Linked DNA regions of Homo sapiens: region 1 is linked to region 2. Evidence: fine-mapped expression QTL. A gene starts in region 2. The other region holds a variant in brackets. All regions are shown on one strand. Distances are between the middles of the regions.

Region 1 (8,331 bases), 26 kb after region 2:
CTGATGAAGAGAGGAAGGCTGGGAAGCATCAGGGGCCTTGGCCAGGGCACGGCTAGTTAGTGATAGACAAGGACTTGAATGCAGACTGTACTGGAACCTCAACGCTTGGCCAGCACACACTGTTGAGAGCTTCTCTTCCTGAATGTTCTCTCTGTGGTGCCGTCTGTCTCTTCAGCTCCCCCAGGTCTCTTTCTCTTGCTGAATCGGACAGCTCCTCACCCAACAGCCTCACCCAGACATTTCCACTAGAATATCCTGAAATGTTAGGTTCCATTTATTGAGTGCCCACCTTGTGATAGCTACACACATTCTCCTGTAATACTTAACAGTAGTCCACAGCTTTTCTGAAGATCGTTCGGAATCCACAGCAAAAGCTGTAAAACGAAACAGACTTCTTCACCCAGCAATTCAGCATCTGGAAATTCACACTCAGGGTTGTGTACAAAGCTGTATGTACTTGCATATTTATTGCAGTGTTACTTATACCAATAATACCGAGGGCTTGCTTTGAGGCACACACTGAGCAATAGCAATGTACAGACCTCATTTGGATCCTGATTTCATAAACTGTAAAGGAAAAACATCAGGACAGTTGGGAAAAGTTGAATACTGAATATTTGATGTTAAAGGGTGATTGTTAAACTTTAGTTGAAGAGGTCTTCATCTTCTTGAGACACACACTGACATTTCCAGCTTCACAGAGGAAATGGGTTGGTGTCTGGCATTTGCTTTTTAATAACTCAGTGAGGGCAGGGGGCCCCGGGAAGAGCCAAGGTGGCAGAGTGGCTGGAAGTGGACAGTGGCTGAAGCTGGTAATGGGTTCATTAGACAGTTTTGTTTTTTTTGTTTTTTTGAGGCAGAGTCTTGCCCTGTCAGCCCAGGCTGGAGTGTGATGGTGCGATCTCGGCTCAGCACAAGCGCCACCTCCCGGGTTCACACCATTCTCCTGTCTCAGCCTCCCAAGTAGCTGGGATTACAGGCATGCGTCACCACACCTGGCTAATTTTTGTATTTTTAGTAGAAACGGGGTTTCACCATGTCGTCCAGGCTGGTCTCAAACTCCTGACCTCAGGTGATCTGCCCTCCTCGGCCTCCCACAGTACTGAGATTACAGGTGGGAGCCACCACGCCCAGCATAGACTGTTCTTACTCCTGTTGCATGTCTGGAATTTTTCTTGATAAAAAAATTTGGAAAGAAAAGGGAAAAAGGCAAAGAGCTTTAATTTCAAGTGAAACCATCTTGTAGACTAAGGTTTTGAAAGGCAAGTGGCAGGGTTGGGAGACCTGTTTCTGAAGGTGCTCACTCTCTGAAATCTCTCAGACCCCAGCTTCCCAGCAGTTTTCTCTCTGTTCTCTGTGCTCCCGGAGTCCTCTGCACCGCCCCCTGCCACTGCCTCTCATTCATTCATTTCTCAGATAGTTATGCGCAGCTCCAGGCACCAGATTCTGTGCTGGGTGCAGGCAGGACCTGGAGGGCGTCCTCAAGTGTTGATCTGCAGGACTGTCTTGATCTTTCCAGCAGTGTCATTGTGGGCACGTGACCTGAGCTTTCTGAGCCTGTTTCCACATCTGTAAAGTGCTATCCACTTCCACCTCCTGGGCTGTCGTGCAGATGTAGGAAGGAATTGCACTCACACACTCAGCATGAGACAGGCGCTCAGTAAAAGCCCGTCCAGGGGATATGAGATCAGTGAGGGATAGGAAAGCAAGGTGGGCAGAAACAGCAAAACCCTTCCCATTGATGATGGCAGTTTGTGCGTCCGACTGGCTGGTTTGCAGGCTCAACTTCACATTGAGACACTTGGACGTCACATGTGAAGCCTACGATCACTTCCGCTCCTGCCTGCACGCGCTGGAGCAGCTCGCAGATGGCAAGCTGCGCTTCGTGGTGGAGCCCGTGGAGGCCTCCTTCCCACAGCTCCTGGTTTACGAGCGCCTCCAGCAACTGGTAGGTCCAGGCCCCGAAGCAGGGCCGTTGGTTGCTTTACTGTGAAGCGGGTGACTCCAGGGCAAAGAGGTGATGAAGCAAGCCCTCCAAGCACAGGCTCCACCCTAGTCCTGCAGGGGGTGAAGCCTGCGTGCCTGGCACCATCTGTAGTGGAACCTGTTGGGGGAGCTACATCCTGTTCTTAGCAGCCACCATGTCTGGAGACGGGCCTACAGGCGAACCTTGTCTTTTACTTTATAGCACATATTCCCCCCGTTGGACAGTTCAGACTCCAGAGGAGGCAAGACCGAGGCAGAGGTTGTTTGGGGAACAGGAAGTCAGTGGAGGGAAGTTTGTGGGTTGCAGATCTTGGTGCAGGCGCCCCGCTGTGGTGGCCGCTGCTCACATCTTCACTGTGGAAGGATACCAGCCCCTCTCGGACTGAACTGGCTTTTCTATTAACTGGAGTCCAAAGATTGAGAATTAACTTCTTTTGTTCTGTTTGCCTTTTGGCTGTGGCCTCCCTTTCTCTATGTCTGTGGAGACCCGGGCCTAGTTCTAAGGAAAAAGGGAGGAAGAGGGAGTCACGAGGAGCTGCCGCCCTTGCACTCTGTCTCGCGTCCTGAGGGAGGGCAGCATGGAATTCGTGTGGTTTTGTGTGCGAGGAGGATCTTGTATTTATTGCTCTGCCACTTCTGGGCAGCATTAAGAGTAGCGTCACATGACCAAGAACACACATTTCTTACAAGTCAGCAGCCCCAATACATGATGCCTAAGACGTCCCAAAAAGGCCAGGTACGGTGGCTCCCACCTGTAATCCCAGCACTCTGGGAGGCCATGGTCGGAGGGTTGCTTGAAGCTAGGAGTTCGAGACCAGCCTGGGCATCACAGACCCTATCTCGACAAAAATCAAGAAAAAAAATTAGCCATGCATGGTGGTGCACACCTGTGGTCCCAGCTACTCTGGAAGCTGAGGTGGGAGGATTGCTTGAGCCCAGAAGTTCAAGGCTGCAGCAAGCTGTGATGGTGCCACTGCACTCCAGACTGGGCAACAGAATGAGATCCTGTCTCTAAAATAAAATTGTTTATAAAGATCTCCCCCAAAATGGAGAGATACGGCAACTCACTGCTATTCTGGTCTCTTCTGATTGTTTGACATCCTCTGATGCACCTTCCGTTAATGCTGGGACTTCATCCATCCAGCCTCTCTGCCACAGTAAAATAGAACAGCCCAGAGCAACAAAGAAAGGAGGAAGCCGCCCGTCCGCTCCTGCCCCAGCTCGCCTGCTCCGTGGCTGACGTGTTGTCTAACTACTCTCCTTGGTGAATCACTTTCCTTAATGAAATTGTGATGCTCTTGTATGTGCACTTCAGAAACCTGTTCTTTTCTCTGTTTGCTGCAGGAGCTCTGGAAGATCATCGCAGAACCAGTAACATGACCCAT[C/T]GCCTCCACAAGGCGCGGCGTCTCGACTGTTCTTAGAGTGTATTTCTAGTAAAATCAGAAGCTCACCAAAGCAACATGCTTGAGATTTTGTCATTTTAAAAATATGGTTACACGTACCTTAGATGACCCAAGATGGTTTTCTGGGGTCTGTCCCTGCCTCCCAGTTGTAGCCAGAGAAGGTTGTTGCTGTGGGCTGGAGGTCACTTTAGTTGCCTGTTTCTCATGGTTGTGATGTGTGCTCCAGGGTCAAGCCGAGCCACGTTCCTTCTCAGCTCAGTTCCACCCACGTCAGTCATTTCAGCTGTGTGCTTTACTTGCGGTTGCGGCCCTGGCTGTGAGGTGGATTCTTGTACTGCCCTCTGTCAGCTGTTTACAGATGGGTTGACTACCACTGCCAGTATTGCCATCATATTGCCGCTCGGCACAAAAGCCTCATTTCCTCCCAGGGTTGGGTATGCTCCACCCCATCACTCTGGTGAGGGCCCCATGAGAAGGAAGAGGCAGGAGCTGGCGCCAGGAATGGACTGGCATTGGCCTTTGTATTTAATTTTAACTCTTTATCACCCAAATCAGGTACGTTTGGAATAAACCTAAGAGCCACTCTTTGGGGTCATGTGCAGCTGACCAGGGTTTGTGCAGTGATCTTCCTCAGAGGTGTTCCCTTCCGCCTGGACTCATTTTCCCTCCGCCCCTTGGTCTCTCTGTCTTATCACGTGTGTACATGTCTGTCTGTCTGGTTTTTTATCTTCTCCATCTGTGCCTCTCTCCTCCCATCTCCACCCCTTCCTGTCATCCTCTATGTCCCACTGTCTCTCTCCTTCTCTCCAGTTTTGGTCCCATCTTCCTGCTACCCTTGGCCCTCCCTGCAGCCCCTTTCCCCTGCCTTGCTGCTGCCGCACACTTTGCACCAGGGCCTTTCATGGCCCCTTTCCGCCTCCCTTGCAGCTCAGGTTTCCTGGCTTCTCCATGCACTGTCCCTGCCCACACTCGCTTCTCCCCAAGCTCCCAGGTTCCATCCCTAGGCCCATCATACCCCTGGCATTGGCTAATCCCTCATGCCAGGGGCCAGGCACTTGCAAGTCTAACTTCATCTTCCCAACAAATTTAGGAGGTCCGCAGCCTTGTGATACCCACATTACAGCGGAGAAGACTGAGGTCCAAAAAGGAAAAAGTCTCCATGAGGTCAGGGACCTTGTTTGTCTTAAATATCACTACATCCCTGCTGTATGGTCTGGCAAACAGTAGATGCTCAACACATATTGTTGAATGAATTGCTAATGTAAGTTACTAATTAGGTCATTATTTCCTATTTGTGAGTGATTTTGCCTCCAGGAACATTTGGCAGTGCCTGGAGACATTTTCGGTGGTCACAAGTAGGGGAGACGGGTGCCACCAGTATCCAGTGGGTGAGGCCAGAGATGCTGCTGAACGTTCTATAATGCGGTAATCACGGAGCATCCCCCACAACACAAAATGATCCAGCCCAAAATGTGAGTAGCGCCGAGGCGGAGAAATCCTGACTTGGAAGAAGAAAGCCAAGTACTTTAGAGAAGAAAAACGGTCTCAGCTGAACCTGTAGTGAGAGCATGCAGGAGAGTGACCTCACCCTGCCCCTCTGGGAGCAAGAAGAAAACCTATGCATGTACGTTATTATAAATCTTCAAAGAACCTAAAAGGCAGAAGTGATCCCTATTTTGCACATGAGAAATCCAAAATTCAGAGAGGTTCAGCAACTTGCCCAACATCACACAGCAACCAAGGGCAGAGTCAGGTTTAGAGCCCATGTCCACCCATGTCCATCTGACTCCTGAGCCTGTGCTTTTCCCACATTCCCGCTGGAGCAGCAGCAGCATCTGTGGCATCACGTGGATGCTGGTTAGAAATGCAACATCAGGCTGAGCATGTTGGCTCACTCCTGCAATCCCGATACTTTGGGAGGCCAAGGCAGGAGGATCAATTAAGGCCAGGAGTTCAACCAGCCTGGACAACAAAGCAAGACCCCATCTCTATTAAAAATTAAACAGCCAATTAGTCTGGCATGGTGGTTTGCGCCTGCAGTCCCAGCTACTTGGGAGGCCGAGGCAGGAGAATCGCTTGAACCTGGGAGGCGAAGGTTGCAGTGAGCCAAGATCGCAACACTGCCCTCCAGCCTGGGCAACAGAGCCAGACATCTCAAAAATTAAAAAGCCAGGCGAGGTGCCGGGCATGGTGGCTCATGCCTGTCATCCCAGCACTTTGGGAGGCCGAGGCGGGTGGATCACCCAAAGTCAGGAGTTCAAGACCAGCCTGGCCAACATGGTGAAACCCTGCCTCTACTAAAAATACAAAATTAGCCGGGTGTGGTGGCTCATGCCTGTAATCCCAGCTACTTGGGAGGCTGAGGCAGGAGAATCACTTGAACCCAGGAGGCAGAGGTTGCAGTGAGCCAAGACCATGCCATTGCACTCTAGCCTGGGCAACAAGAGCAAAACTCCATCTCAAAAAAAAAAAAAAGCCAGGCGTAGTGGCTAACGCCTGTAGTCCCAACTACTCAGAAGGCAAGGTGAGAGGATTGCTTGAGCCTAAGAATTTGAGGCTGCAGTGAGCCATGACTGCACCATTGCACTCTGGCCTGGGCAACAGAGAGAGATCCTGTCTCCAAAAAAGAAGAAAAGTATCAAGCCTCAGCTCAGGACGTGATTCCGAATCTGCATCTCAACGAGACCCTGGGTGATTTGTGTGCACAGTAGTTTGAGAAGCTCTGGGGCCTACCACATAGCCCTCAACCTATTGCTGTTTTCTAAAATTCCTACACAAACTCCGTTCCTGACAGACTTGCCATAATGGAGCAGCATTGCAGATCACTACAGGGAATATTAATAATGAGTCTTCAAATCAGAACCCCACTAGACAGAGCCAACAACTGGCAGTACGTCAGCACTAATGGTGACAATTTCCTAGCACTCCTGGGTACAAGTCCATAAATGTAATTGGCACCAAGCAATAGAGTTGTCACAGCTTTCACCTGCCGCATTAGGGCAAACTGCTTTTATGTCTAAACCACTGGGCCTGAAAGCTTCCTCTAAGTAGAGCCTGGAATTAATCTTGATCCACTGTAATTCAAAGTATCGTCAGATTTTCATTTCCCAGAGTGGGAGCGCGCCCCCATTGCCATGTTTTATGGCCTTGTTTGAGCCTCTACAAGTGCTTGTTTGGCAGCGATATTCAGAATCACCAAACCATGGGGATGTTCTGCTAGGTAATTAGCCCAGGCCAGTGGACTCAATTTTTTTATAACATTTTCAGAAAAATATGTGACCCAAGGAGGGGACTTGGCTGTTCAGCTGCAGCCTGCATGGGAAAGAACTGTTAAAACCAACAAAGCCAGGCACAGTGGCTCACACCTGTAATTCCAGCATTTTGGGAGGCCGAGGTGGGTGGATCACCTAAGGTCAGGAGTTCGAGACCAGCCTGGCCAACATGGTGAAACCCCGTCTCTACTAAAAATACAAAAAAAAAAAAAAAAATTAGCTGGGCGTGGTGGCGGTCGCCTGTAATCCCAGCTACTTAGGAGGCTGAGGCAGGAGAATCTCTACAACCCGGGAGGTGGAGGTTGCAGTGAGCCAAGACTGCGCCATTGCACTCTACCCTGGGCAACAAGAATGAAACTCCGTCTCAAAAGAAATTAAAAAAAAAAAACCATTAGTGAAACTGTGGTCCCCAAAGCTTCTCAAACTAGTATGCACACGAATCACTTGGGATCTTGTCAAAATACAGATTCTGACTCAGGCCCTGGATGTGGCCTGATGCTGCAGTTTAACAAGCTCCCGGGTGATGCTGATGATGCTCGTCTGTGGGCCACACTGTGAGGAGTGAAGTTGCAACATGTCATCCCTGGTTAAGAGCACAAACTCTGGGTTGGATGTGGTGGCTCATACCTGTGATCCCAGCACTTTGGGAGGCAAAGGCAGGAGGATTACTTGAGGACAGGAGTTTGAGATCAGCCTGGGCAACATACAGAGACCCTATCTCTAAAAAACTTTTTTTTAATTAGCCAGGTGTGTCATGCACCTGTACTCCCAGCTACTCAGGAGGCTGGGTCGGGAGCATCGCCTAAGCGAAGGAATTCTAGGCTGCAGTGAACTGTGATTGTGCCACTGCACTACACCCTCACAGCCTTACAGACAGAGACGCTATTTCTAAAGAAAAAAAAACCCACCAACTCCGGAGTTGAGCAAGCCAGGGTTTAAATCCTGCCTCTGCTGTGTAACAGCAATGACCTTGGACAAATGACCTAGCCTCTCTGAACCTGAGTTTCCTCACCTGTAAAATAGTAAAACTTCTTGATAGGTTGGTGAATGGGTACAAACTTAGGGAAGAAATACCTTCTAATGTTTGGTAGCAGACTAGGGTGGCTACAGTTAGCAACAATATATTGTGTATTTCAAAGTTGCTAGAAGAGAGAACTTGAAATGTTCCCAACACATAAAATTATAAATTCTCAAGGTGGTGAATACCTCAAATACCCTGGCTTGATAATTACACATTCTGTGTATATAAAACACATTCATATGCACCCCATAATATGCAAAATTTCATTTATCAATAAATGAAAAAAAGCCAGATGTGGCTCATGCGTGTAATCCCGGCACTTTGGGAGGCCAAGGCAAATGGATCACCTGAGGTCAGGAGTTCAAGACCAGTCTGGCCAACATGACAAAACCCCGTATCTACTAAAAATACAAAAAAATAGCTGGGCATGGTGGCGTGCCTGTAATTCCAGCTACTCTGGAGGCTGAGGCAGGAGAATTGGAACCTGAGAGGTGGAGTTTGCAGTGAGCTAAGATTGCACCATTGCACTCCAGCCTGGGTGACAGAGCGAGACTCCGTCTCAAAAAATAATATAAATAAATAAATGGGAAAAAAAGAGGGTAAGAATTCTTTCTTCACAGAATTATTGTAAAGATCATACTAAATGGGC
Region 2 (8,331 bases):
CACCTGTAATCCCAGCTACTCAGGAGGCTGAGGCAGGAGAATCGCTTGAAACCAGGAGGCAGAGGTTGCAGTGAGCCGAGATTGCACCACTGCACTTCAGACTGGGTGACAGAGAGAGACCCTGTCTCAAAATAAATAAATAAATAACAAATAGGTCATTCCAGAGAGTGACAGATCTAAAAAGAAAATATAAGTTGCCAGGTGCAGTGGCTCATGCCTGTCATCCCAGAAATTTGGGAGGCCAAGGTGGGAGGATTGATTGAGCCCAGGAGTTCAAGACCAGCTTGGATAACACAGCGAGACCCCATTTCTACTTTTAAAAAATGAAATAAGAAAGAAGATTAAAGGGTGTGTAAAGGAGAGCTACTTGGGCAGATAGTAGGGGTCAACACATGATGGGATGGGCAGGGAAGGGCCAACTGAGCAGATAATATTTAAGCTATGGGTCGGGCACAGTGGCTCATGCCTGTAATCCCAGCACTCTGGGAGGCCAAGGTAGGTGGATCACCTGAGGTCAGGAGTCGGAGACCACCGTGGCCAACATGGCAAAACCCCGTTTCTACTAAAAATACAAAAATTAGCCAGGCGTGGTTGCTGGCGCCTGTAATCCCAGCTACTCGGGAGGCTGAGGCAGGAGAATTGCTTGAATCCAGGAGGCAGAGTTTGCAGTGAGTAAAGATCGCGTCACTGCACTCCAGCCTGGGTGACAGTGAGACTCTGTCTCAAAAAATAAAAATAAAATAAAATAAAAAATAAAAATAATTTAAGCTATGTTGGACGAGAAGGAACCAGTTGTGACGATGGAAACTGGGCTGAGAGTGGGCTTTCTGAGCCAAGGGGAATGCAAATAAAAAGACCAGTAGGCACAAATTAGCTAAAACCTTGTATTAGTCTCTTAACTAAATAAAACTGGGTGACTTTAACCAACAGACCTGCATTCCCGCACAGTTCTGGAGGCCACGAGTCCAAAATCAAAGTAGCAGCATGGCTGGGTCCTTCTGGAGGCTCTGAGGGAGAATCCGTTCCGCGTGTCTGTCCTGACGCATGGAGGCTGCCGGCAATCCTGGGCGATCCTTGGCTCTTACATGCCTCACCCCATTCTCCGCCTGACTCCACATTGTCTTCTTTCTGAGTCCTCTCCTCTTGTGATAAGGACAGCTGTCATTGGACTTAGGGCCTGCCCTAAATCCAGGATGATTTCAAGATCCTTAACTACTTGCATCTACAATGACCCTATTTCTTTTCTTTTTTTTTAATACAGGGTCTCTCTCTGTTGCCCAGGCTGGAGTACAGTGACGCAAACACCACTCACTGTGGCCTCAACCTCCTGGGCTCAAGTAATCCTCCCTCCTCTGCTTCCCAAGTAACTGGGAACATAGTCATGCACGAACATCCCCAGCTGATTTTTTAAAGCTTTTTTGTTTATTTTGCTTTATTCCTTTTTACAGCTGAATAATAATCCCTTGATGCATACACCACATTCTGCCTAGCTTGAGAAAACATATAATTGTGAGGGTTTTTTTATTTTACATAATTGATCTTATACAGTATGAATGGCACTGTAACTTATTTTGTTTTTTGTTTTTCATCTACCAATGTGACGTGGTGAAGTGAGTAAAACTGGTGGGTTCTTTAAAATATAACAGACACTGTCAGATTATCTCAAGAAATGGAAGGGAGTTATTGTCTGGAACTCTCCACGGGTGATATGCCACTCATTCTCACAACACGCCAAGAAAGGTATTATCAGTATTTGAGCCACTAGGAAATTAAGTTTCATAGAAGTAAAGCAATTGCCCAAGTACCAAGGATATGAAAAGCTCTTCAAAATTAGGTAGTGAATGGATGAATATAATTAATCAGTGGCCGAGCTGGGGATTTGAACTCAGCTCTGTGCTCTTGAAGGTCAACCTCCTGCCTCTGCACACAGAACCAGGAACCAGAGCGCAGACTGCTGTGCATTCAAAGCAGCTGCCGTGATATGCTGATGGGAGGCGGGGGCAGAATTATCATCACCCACTTTCAGCAGTCCTGGAGGACAAGCTCTCTCTCCAGGAGGACAAAATTTTCTGGGGCTGACTGGGAAAACACATCAAGCATTTGGTAAATGCACGACCTTTGGAGAAAGGGCTGTTCTGAATAACCCAGCTAATAATAATCACCCGACAGCAATTTCCTGCAAGCTGGTTTCTTAATACACATCTGGCAGTTCATCCGCCTTCCCTCTGCTGCAGACATGGTTTGTCATTAGTCCAGGTGGTGGGAGTGATGGACACTCCAGCGTGTGTGAGCATGCACCTTAACCCTTGCTTCGCCAAGTCTGGGGGAGACTCTCAAAGCAAAAGACCTGCCTGGGACACTAGGGAGGGCATTTAACCCTAAGGCTCCACCCAGCAGACTCACTGGGACATTTTGAAAATGTGAGTCTGAGGCCAAGTGTGGTGGCTCATGCCTGTAATCCCAGCACTTTGGGAGGCCAAGGCGGGCAGATCACGTGAGGTCAGGAGTTTGAGACCAGCCTGGCCAACATGGTGAAACCCCGTCTCTACTAAAAATACAAAAATTAGCTGGATGTGGTGGCACACGCCTGTAATCCCAGCTACTCAGGAGACTGAGGCAGGAGAATTGCTTGATCCAGGGAGGCAGAGGTTGCAGTGAGCTGAGATGGCGTCACTGCACTCCAGCCTGGTCGACAAATGGAGACTCTGTCAAAAAGAAAAAAGAAAAGAAAAGAAAACGTGAGTCTGCGTCTCACTGGCTAGGTAACACTGAGCAAGGCACTTCACCTCTCTGAGCTTCGGAATGGGTGTGAGAATGAAACAAAACCACAAGATGAAGGGGCCAGCAGTGTGCCTTGTTTATAACTGAGGCTCCGGAACTGAGGGCCCCCTCCCGCACTCCCCCAGCTACCATCTCTTTGCAGCCCTGCCAAGAAGGGCTGGCTTTCTTTCCCCTTACCTGGTGACCTATTACTGTGTTGCAAACCACCTCAAAATTTGTGGCAGAAATGATAACCCTTTTGGGGCCATCTGGGCTGCTATAACAGAATACCATACATGGGGTGGCTGATAAACACATTCATTTCTCATGGTTCTAGGGGCTGGAAAGTCCAAAATCAAGGCACTGGCAGATTCTGTGTCCAATTCTTGGTCATAGATGGCTGTCTTTTTGCCGTGTCCTCACATGACAGAAGAAGTGAGGCAGCTCTTTGGGGCCTCTTTTGTAGGGGCACTAATCCCCTATAAAAGATTATAGGTTTGACAAGAGGAGGAATGTGATCTTTTGATTTTTAAGGGTCATTCCCCCGGTTTAAATTTGAAGACAAAACTCCCAAGGGTGTGAACAATGCCTTCCTAGTGCCCTCCCCACCACTCAACATCCTCTGGGGATAACTAAGAGAACCCTCAGCGAACTAGAGAGAAAACTATGAATAGAATCTGGTCCCAAGACACCCAACTGGCTCTCTGTGTACTGTCCTGGGGGATTTCAGGAAACATAATCTGTTTCTTAAAAAAAAAAAAAAAAAAAATTCTTATTTGTGTCGCTTAGTCACCCTATCAACTCTCCACGTTTTATCATCAGTAACCATGAAATTGATGTTGATTTAATTCTATTTTGAAAAGAGAAAAAAAAGTAATTTAGACAAAGGTTGCCAGCTGAGGCCATGTGTGTGCGTGTGTGTATATGTGAACACACAGGGATATAGATTTTACATATGTGGACTTTACATATGTTCCTGTGTGTATATTTGTATGTTCACTGACATGTCTGAGAGTGAGCACCACTGTGTGTGTCTGGGCATGTCTGTGAACACGTCAGTGTGGTGTATATCCCTGGCAGCTCCCCATCTCACGCACAGTAAAATCCAAAGTTCTTAGAATGTCACAAAAGTTCTAACCCTGGCTACCTATGTATCCTCGTTTCCTGCGGCCCATCCCCTGGCTTACTCCATTGTGGCCAGGCTGACTTCCATGATGTCACTGAATATATAGATTGAGAAAAGGGCCAATATTATTGACTGTACTTTTTCTAAAAATGCAGTGACTCAGGCAAGAGACGTGAGAATCTGTGGTCTATCCTGCTCATCCTCTTCAGGGGATTCTTCTGAGGGCTGTGCTCAGTCACGGACTCAGAGGCTTTCTGAAATTCTGCAGGCAAGAAAAAACGAGCAAACATGGAGTCTTATGTTTGCCACTCTGTCTCACCCCCTTGGTGTTGGAAACTTGATGAGCATACGAATTAACGAAATCACTACCACCTAATGAAATCACTACCACCTATTAATAATAACAAGTACTGGCTGGGCGTGGTGGCTCATGCCTGTAATTTATGAGCTTTAGGAGGCCGAAGCAGGAGGACTGCTTGAAGCCAGGAGTTTGAGACCAGCCTGGGCAACACAACAAGATACAGTCTGTACAAAAAAAAAAAAAAATGGTGCCACGCAACTGTAGTCCCAGCTACTAGAGAGGCTGAAACAGGATTCCTTAAGCCCAGGAGTTCAAGGCTGCAGTGAGCTAAAATTGCGCCGCTGCACTCCAGCCTGGGTGACAGAGCAAGACCATCTCAAATAAACAAACAAACAAACAAACGAGTACTAAGAGCATGGATGACGGTAACACCCGTGATAATAAATACAGTAGCATGCTGGTTAAATAGCACCGGCTCTGATCCCACACCCCGGGTTCGAATCCAGGCTTTACCACTTAGTAGCTGGGAGAGTTATTTAACTCCTATTTAAGTCTTTTAGAGGAATGAGTTTAGCCACCTAGGCGGGTCCCCCCAGCAAACACGCCTCGCCCGCGACCAGAGCGAAGGCTACAGGTGCCCGCCGGCAACCCTCGGACGCATGCGCGGCCCGGGCAGGTAGGTGGAGCCACGGTGCGGGGCAGTCGGATGGTCGCACGCGGGGGCGGGGCCGCGCCTGCGCAGACCGCCTGTTATGGCGGCCGCCTAAGTCCCACAGAGACGGGAGTCGGGTGGGATCCCAGGCTGGGCCCCGCGGCGGGTAAGTGCCTGGGAGAGGCGGCGGGATAGGGTAGGGTGCAGGGAACCTCCTGGCGCCGAGCCTGACTTTGAAATCCGAGCTCCCACAGATCGGAGGCCCAGATCCCTAAGGCCCGACCCCACTCTTAGCGTCAGTTTCCCCTTCTCAACACGGGTGTTGGGGAAAGAAGTCCACGTCCTCACCTGGGTTTCCATCCTGGGTCCAGGCACCTCTCCTTCGGTTCTAGATTAGGAAGGGAGGGCAGTGCCCGACCTGTGACTGTTTTTTGAGAGGGCAATAGTTAACCCACAAGGGTGGCGTCAGGAAGGCGACAAGACAAAGAGAACGAGTAGCCCCACGGGGGACGTCCCCGGAGCCCCTCACTACCACTCTACGCACCGTGGCCAGGCCACGTCTTTCCTGCCCCCAGCCTGGGCCTTCACACCCTGCCCTCCCCAGCTCCTGGCCTAAATCGTCATGGGATCGCGCCAAATTATTGATTGTTGAGTGAGTTGCAGTTATCAGAAAGAAAGATGAGGAGGGAAGTTATTTCAACACCGTGATCCCAGCACACTGCTTATTTGGGACAACTGACTGGGGACCTATAGGAGAAGAAAGCTGGTAGCGTCTCAGTCTAGCCCCCACAGCCTTAGAAGAGCCAAGAACACGTTAGCTCCTGCTGCAGGGATGAGCCTGCAGCCCTATGGAGAGGTGGTGGGGCAGGTCCCCATCTGCAACCTGGGTCTCCTTTCTCAGCTCTGCCCAGTAAAGAGAGGAGCCCGAAGCCCATACAGACCCTGCATTTCCGGAAAGAGACTTTTCCTGACTAGAGAAACTGTTACCTTTTTTCTTTCTTCCCAGCATTCACTTTAATCATTATTATATTACTATAATGATAGTATTTACTATTGTTGCTTATTGAACGTTTACTATATGTCGTAAGCCCGAAAAGTGGTAATTGTCTCATATACTCCTCTGAGTATATGAGGGCCTGAGATAGGTTCAAGAGGGCCTCCTTATTCCCAGATAGCTGATTCTAGGGAAAGCCACTTAAAGGGAATCTCCTTCATCTGGAACTTACATTGCAGCGTACATTTCTTGGGAAGCCTGGTTGGGTTGAATTTAAAAATGGAAAATTCAACTAGAGATTAAGAATTTGAGTTTTTTTGTGTGTGTCTATACTTAAAATTTGGTGTGTAATATTATGCTCACTTTTGGAAAAAGCAAAGAACATTGATTTTTCTGGGATGTAAGTTTTCCAACAAAATTGCGCTATAGGCCATGCCTGGTGGCTCACACCTATAATCCCAGCACTTTGGGAGGCCAAGGTAGATGGATCTACCTTGGTCAGGAGTTCAAGACTAGCCTGGCCAACATGGCAAAACCCCATCTTTACTAAAAATACAAAAATTAGGTGGACATTGTGGTGCATGCCTGTAGTCCCAGTTACTCGGGACTCTGAGGTAGGATCACTTGAGCCCAGGAGGCGGAGGTTGTAGTGAGCCGAGATGGCACCACTGCACTCTAGCCTGGGCAACAGAGTGAGACTCTGTCTCAGAAAAAAAAAAAAAAATGCGCTATGGCAAAAAAAGAAATGGCATCCTTTGGTTCACTTTTGATTTTTACAGCAATATTAGAGAGGATCTTCCCCACCCCCTTCAAAAAAAACTGTATGTGAAAGTCCTCAGTTTTCCCCCAGGACATCTCTAAGTCCTGAGAGAGCTTGATCTGCCTTTGAAATGAGTGGTAGGTATAAGCTGTATTTTCTCTTCTGGAATCTGGTGTGGTTTTGCCAGTCCGATTGATTGAGTGTTGGCCTTCAGGTCCAGCATTTCTCCATCACTTTCAATGACACCATGAAATTCTGCATTGATTTGCCAGATTCACAGACTTTCTTTACAACCCACTTGCATTTTGATGGCTTTATGGTGTTGAGTAGGAAAGCTAGCATGGAGATGAATAAGGAATCATCTTTTTCTTAAAAATTTTTTTGTTGGGACAGCTTTTGCTGCCCCACAGCAACCACTTAAATGTAGGAACTCCAGCAGTGTACTGGGATCATTAGGACAGCCTGAGTCATGATGACCTCATTTTGCAGTTGAAGAAGTGGGGGCCCTGAAGATTTCATGACATCTACCCAGGTAGGAACAGCTCCTATAGGCAGTCAGGGGTTACAGGCAGGTTTGGGTCAAATACCTGAAACCAACCCCAGGACAAGGAGGTTGCTGGTGTTTTATTAACACCTACTGTGAGCCAAGGACTCTGCTCAGCAGTTTACCCACCCAGTAACACTGCGTGAGATTGTGGCTGAAGAAACAGATGCAGAGAGGCGAAGTGATTTTCCTGAAATCACATGGCTAGAAGGTGAGAAACCAGGGATCCCCACCTGGTCTGTCCAGCTTCAAAGCCCATCAGACTACTGCTGTTTGATGATGCTTTTTGATTAGGTGAAACGGTTGGAGGGAGGTCCCACCTGTTCTTGACCACTTTGCCTCAGCCATGGTTTTCCAAGTTTTAGTTATTAATGTGTCACCTGCATAATTTTGCCATATCTGTGTATCACCAGTGTAGTGACTCCCTTACTACTTTTCCTTTAAATCCACTCACTCTTTTTTTTTTTTTTTTAATTTCTTTTTGAGACAGGGTCTTGCTCTGCCACCCAGCCTGGAGTGCAGAGTGCAGTGACGCATTCTCAGCTCACTGCAACCCCTGCCTTTTGGTGTCAAGCGATCCTCCCACCTCAGCCTCCCAAGTAGCTGGGACTACCAGCGCGCGCCACGACACCCGCCTAATTCCACTCATCTTTTTAAATTCAGTAGCAGAGCTTTAAGCCAGGCATGATGGCTCACGCCTGTAATCCCAGCACTTTAGGAAGCTGATATGGGAGGATGGCTTGAGCCCAAGAATTTGAGACCAGCCTGGGAAACATAGTGAGACCCTTGTCTCTACAAAAAAAAAAAATTTAATGCCAAGTATGGTGGCATAGCTGTAGTCCTAACTATGAAGGAGGTTGAGGCAGGAGGATCGCGTGAAGTTTGAGGCTGCAGTGAGCCATGATTGTACCACTGCACTCCAGCCTGGGCAACAGAGCAAGCCCCTGTCTGTAAAAAGAAATGTTTAAAAATAAAACATTGTTTAAAATAGGAAAGCTTTATAACAACAAATGATGTGGGGACAGTTGATAACAGCTTCTAGAATAAAAAAGAAAGAGTAAAGGGCCATAACAACTAAATGCAAAGTGCAGATTGTGATTGGATACTGGTTTCTGGGGGAAAAAAAACCTCAAAGACCTTTGGGAGACAGATGGAGGAAATTGACTTTAATGCTATTAGGGAATTATTAATTAA

Evidence for each region.
Region 1: its variant is fine-mapped to the expression of METTL22 in whole blood (TOPMed, PIP 0.99).

The regions. Positions count from the first base shown.
Region 1 is chr16:8,642,778-8,651,108 of GRCh38, forward strand. METTL22 (methyltransferase 22, Kin17 lysine) reads left to right here. Exons shown (of 11, transcript NM_024109.4): 10 at 1,780-1,948; 11 at 3,331-6,877. The coding sequence ends at 3,366. Among named protein-coding and RNA genes, the nearest start is that of METTL22, 25 kb to the left of the region's middle. The variant C/T (reference allele first, on the strand shown) is at 3,372.
Region 2 is chr16:8,616,771-8,625,101 of GRCh38, forward strand. It overlaps METTL22 (methyltransferase 22, Kin17 lysine), which reads left to right and starts at 4,928. Exons shown (of 11, transcript NM_024109.4): 1 at 4,928-5,005.